Linked DNA regions of Homo sapiens: region 2 is linked to region 1. A link means that fine-mapping ties the variant in region 1 to the expression of a gene that starts in the linked region. Tissue or cell type: pancreas. Region 1 holds a variant in brackets; the other region holds the start of a gene. All regions are shown on one strand. Distances are between the middles of the regions.

Region 1 (2,691 bases):
TTAAGCTGGGTGGGAATTTAAAGGAACAAGAAAGGGGACAACTCTACTGATGGAGAAAAAAGAGTTCAAATTTGAGAGTTCTCTTCTGATCTTCTTTATGTTCTTGGTGAAGGGGAAGGCTCAGTAACTTGCTGACATGAGTAGGTAAGCACAATGGTAAAGTAAAGATTTAAAATAAGCACTGAAAGGAAAGAGAAGGGAACTGTGGACTGCTGAGCAGTGCTGAAGCAGGTTCTAAGTGTACTTGAAAACATTGATCTCAAGTGGTATTTGTCAGCTCTACCAATGTAATTTTCTCCAGCAGCCCTAGGCATTCCCAGGGCAGGGCTCTGACAAAGCAATGGTTGGATCACATGTATGCCTACCTAACACTCAGTAGATTAAATTATATAAGAAAGCAAACCCGGTGCTTCATTTCCAACAGAATATATTAGTGATCTTTAGTTCTCAGATAAAATAGGGGGTTTGTTCCCCAACTCACCATTTTGCATTTTCTCTGTTAACACTTAAGCCAGTGCCTGAGTAGAGAGTGGTTCTGTTCGTCGGCTCTTCAGCCCAAAGAAGCTGACTTGGGTCTAAGGCAGAGACGGGCAGGTCAGCTCCAACGCTGACGAGGACAACTGGAGTGTCTGAGGCAGTAATGCACTGATCCTCAAGAGGGAGAGGGGGGGCCAGAGGAGAAGGTGCTGGAGCCACAGGGGGTGGAGGGACCATGGACTTGAATTTGCCTGTGTTCTGCTCCTCAGCTCCAGGGACAGTCTGTTCGAGTTTGAAACTCTCCACTCTGGTCTCTGCAGGCTCTCCTTTCAGGTCGGATGTGCCAGAAGTTGTTGTGTCTGAGGACAGGTGAGAAGTTATTGGCTGCTTGTCAGTTTTTCTCTTGCCCTTGGTGGTCCCCACTGTCCCTGCTTTGCTAGAAACTGTCTCCTTTGAAGCTTTGGGACGAGATGAGGTGGATGAAGTGGATGGCGAAGCTGATGCTTTAGAGCCAGTTGTTTTTTTTGAATGAGAGGAGCCAGCTA[C/T]AATAGAGAGACCTTGCATTAAAAAATCAAAGAATACAATGCTTTTTAAAATAAAGTAACCAAGGTGTAACTGTCAACAACATTTAAAATGTTCCCTTTAAAGTTTGTTGAATAAATGTATAAGAGAAAATAGGCTAATCATGATAATAGTCTTGTCTTCTGCCCCTCCCTTCCTCCAATCCAGCAAGGAGCAAGTGATATTTACGGCAAAACTCAGAGGAACAAGAGTCCTCTGTCTTCTCTCACTTTAGTCTTTAGCTGAGCCAGCCAAAGGGAGAATCTTCTGCCCCTTGTCTATGGTTCACTTGAAAAAAGCCCGGTATGCTCTCAAGAAGGAATGTTATGGTGCGTAAAGGACAGACATCAGCAGCTAGCTGGGTGTAGCACACAATTAGGCTCATCATAAATTATACATGTTCTATGCTGTCTTTCTAGGAATAGAGTGGTGGCCTGTATTCAGAAGAGACTGGGGTATATATCCAGCTTCTTTCTGGGTCAAAAACAAAATCACTCATCTTACTGCTAAAAGAGAAAATCCACACCAGCTTTCCAGTAGCTCCAGAGAAGAAAGCTCGCCATGCTGGACTCTACTTCCATCTGCAGTAGAGATGGGGTAAAGGGAAAACCCATGGCCACACAGGAAAGGTACACTCCCTTCAAAGCATCAAAAGGCCAGAAAAAAACTTGTTGTTTACAAAACCTATTTACATGGGTTGCTCCTTTTTTTTTTTTTTTTTGAGACAAGGTCTTGTTCTGTCGCCCAGGCTGGAATGCAGTGGTGCAATATCGGCTCACTATAACTTCTGCCTCCTGGGCTCAAGTGATCCTCCTGCCTTAGCCTCCTGAGTAGCTGGGACTACAGGTGTGTACCACCATGCCTGGCTAACTTTAATGTATTTTTGTTGAGACAGGGTTTTGTCATGTTGCCCAGGCTGGTCTTGAACTCCTGGGCTCAAGGGATTCACCCATCTCAGCCTCCCAAAGTGAGAGGCTTTGGTGGCTCCAAAGAATTACAGGTGTGAGCCACCGTGTCTGGTTCTAAATAATGTGAATGGAAAGGATATCATTCTCAGGTCTTCTGACTCCACCTTCGCAAATGTGATCTTCCTTAATGCTTAAGTTCCAAGAAGGTCTTCATCGAAGGATAGCTATGGTATATTTGCCTACTTCCGGATAGGGCACCCTCAATCAAAACAGTTTCAAAACAAAAAGATTAACTACTTTTTTCTTTATGTCATCTTAGTAAATATATGATGATAAAATAAACTCCTATGAGAATACTCTTTTCTTTCATGACCTATAAATTTATCCTAATGGCTTCTTCTGTTATAATGTTGTTATGCTCCTTCTCTTCATGAAGGGTTCAACTATCTTTCACAGAACGATTAGAAAACATCTTGTTAGCATTGTGAAGCCAATCCACACTGTATACAGATGTTATTATAACTTACCTCCAGTTATGACTTTATTGAAGTCAATTGGGAGGGTGAAGAGATGAAGAATAAATGAAAGAATAGACAATGAGATGTAAGACTTCATTTATTCTGATTAGACTGATACTAAAGAAGCCAGTCTTATTTAGTGACAGGTTCCAGGCTTAAAAGGAATCCCTATGGTTTTGGGGTCTTTATCGTTTAAGATATACATAACTAGAATTCTTCTTCCCCAA
Region 2 (2,691 bases), 87 kb after region 1:
ATCTAGCTAGACATCCTGAGGCAGATTAAAAAACCTTCCTCTGTACCCTGTCATTTCCTTTCAGCAAGATCCTGTTGATGTTTGCACAATTTAAAAAGTGTATCAAATATCTCAATGAGTAACATAAACGGTCCCTTCGAGTATTATTTATTTTTAATCGTTGATGGAAAAATATCAAAATAGTACCTTTTAAATTTATTTCCTTATCCAATCACAAGTAACACCACCAAACAGTTTTTTTTTTTTTTATCCCTACACTGTCGGGGAAATGCCAGACGTACCTTCCTTCCCTCTTTTTGTTTAAGAAAATGGAAAAAAGAAACTTTTAAAACAGAGCATTAGAACTCAGACACGTTACACACGTCTCCATAAAACTAACTTTAGTCCTGGAGAACTAAGTTCATGAGATATGTTTCCCTAAATGTTATAGCTGCTGTATCTACTATAAACAAAACAAGTCTCATTTGAAACAATTACGCATTTCGGGGCTAGTTATTAAGTATTCAGCGTCTGCCAGGATAAGGCGATCAGCGCTTCTACTCCGAATAACAAACCATAAATCAGTTGACAAGCTTGAAAGCATTCAGTCCTAGTCTGTTCGGAAGCCAAGCGTAAATACAGAAAAACCTGTTGGCATGTTTCTCTTGCTCTCTAAGTTTCGCGTTTTTAAAAACACTGTAATACGCAAATGGCGTTTCCCGTAAGTTTCTGGCTCCGAAATAATTTGGATAAAAAACCACAGCGAGGCATCGCGCACAGAAAAATGGAGCCTGTGCCTTTAAGGTAAAATCGGCTGGATCCCAAAAGGCATTCCTCTTTCACGACAAAGAGTTTGGCGAGCGCTACCTCTGGGGTTTCTCCGAGGGACTTGGCGGGTCCGAGCGGAACCCGACCAGACGACTAACCCTGCCTGCCCCGGGGCCCCGCCGCCAGCCCTGCGCCCGCGCGGCGGGAGCGCATCGCGTGCGCCCCGGACTCACCGCTGCCGGGCTGCGGGGACAGCGTGGACACCGAGGTCTGGCCCATGACTGGGGTCGCAGGGCCAGGTCCAGCGATCAAGCGGCTCCTTTGGTCCTTCGATCATGGGTCCGCTCCCAGCCAGACTTCCAGGCGTTCATGTCCCGGCCTGTGCCGAGCGGCCCGCCGGGTCCCCTCACCTTCTACCCCGCGCGGGTCTCCCAGCCCGGCCGGCCGCAGCCGGCGCGGCGGATCCTGCCCAGCGGATGCCTGTCATTCCTCTATGCAGATTAGCTGGGGTCAGGGGTCACGGGGGAAGAAGGGGGGTGAGGGCGATAGGGAGGGGAGGAGGGGGAAGCGGGGGGAGGGCGCAGGAGCAGGGGGTGGGGGAAGCCCCCAGCCGGCCCCGCCGCACCCGCACCCCCTCAGGGTGGTAGGGAGTTCAGGCTTTCAGACTACTCCTCTTTGACTTAAAAGGTTCAAAGTCAAATGATCCTTACGGGCTACAAGAAAAGGAATTAAAGTATTTAGTCACGGTACTTAATTTAACAAAATTTGTTTCTTAAAAGTTATTTCCTTCCTTACATTCTATTTGCAGTATTGTGGCACTCTCATGTCTTGTGCCCATTTTTTTCTCGTTTTAAAAATTATCTTCCTTTTAACAAATATAATTTTTTAAAAACGGCACTAATGGCCTCAATCAGGCTTGACAACAAATCTAAATGGTAGGTCTACGTGTGAGATCAACAAAATATACTTTTTGCTGTCTCCCACCTAAAACTCTGGAGTGCTGACCTCTCCTTTATTTCAAAAGAATTACTGTGAAATAAAGTGATTAAAATACACAAAAGGGGAAAAAAACTATAACAAACTTGAAAGGTGAATTAAACCCTTCTATAATATCCTGTTAAATCTCAATCTTCTTAAAAATATGAATACAAATAAATATTCTTCATATTTACAGTTAATGATTAATTAGTATAAGTAATCTTCATGCTATATATATATAATGTGTGTATATATATATACAGTATATGGAACATCTGTATATGGTGCATTAGATTGGATGGTGGTTACTGGATGTGTTCATTTTATGAAAATTCATTGAGATGTCTGTAATGATGTGTGCACTTTGCTGAAGGCATATATTTCATTAAAATGTAAAAAATATCAGAAAGTGCAATATATTTAGGTCATTTACCACAGCTTTCATTTTTTAATTTATCCTAGACAATCAACTCTGAACTAACATGAAAATCATTTTTTTCTAAAATTTTTATTATTAAGATCGTGCAGAGCCTTGTTTGATTTTTTTGAAAGGCACTTACTTGTCTGTTTTGTCATGGTTAATTAAGTTGCCCTATGTTTTTTCACACCCAAATAGCCCACCCACCACTGTGAGGAAGATCTTTTCCCTAAAAAAGTGTGATCCATTGTCTTCTTCCCTTTGCCTAATTCACTCTTAAGAAACACTGATTTTTTTTTTTTTAATGAAATTGAGGATTTAACCAAAATGTGAGTTCTAATTAGGACAATAAAATTAATCCTAACTACATTTCCTTATAAATACAAAAATGTGTTTTGGAAACACATCCCACCTGGGGCGCTAAGCGATGAGAGTAAGCAATTATAATGGCTGGCTCCTCCAGCTCTTTGCTTTGAGTTGCCGTAAGAAAAAAACAAACAAACAAAAGTGGTTAAAGGTAAGTTAAGAGGGAGAATGTTTCACTCTTC

Evidence for each region. PIP is the estimated chance that this variant, and not a neighbour inherited with it, causes the effect.
Region 2: PHACTR2 starts here. The variant in region 1 is fine-mapped to the expression of PHACTR2 in pancreas (GTEx, PIP above 0.99).

What each region holds. Positions count from the first base shown.
Region 1 is chr6:143,763,589-143,766,279 of GRCh38, reverse strand. It overlaps PHACTR2 (phosphatase and actin regulator 2), which reads right to left. Exons shown (of 13, transcript NM_001100164.2): 6 at 482-1,019. Among named protein-coding and RNA genes, the nearest start is that of LTV1, 78 kb to the left of the region's middle. The variant C/T (reference allele first, on the strand shown) is at 1,023.
Region 2 is chr6:143,676,499-143,679,189 of GRCh38, reverse strand. It overlaps PHACTR2 (phosphatase and actin regulator 2), which reads right to left and starts at 1,225. Exons shown (of 13, transcript NM_001100164.2): 1 at 981-1,225. The coding sequence starts at 1,026. RefSeq lists a silencer at 984-1,283 and an enhancer at 1,033-1,881.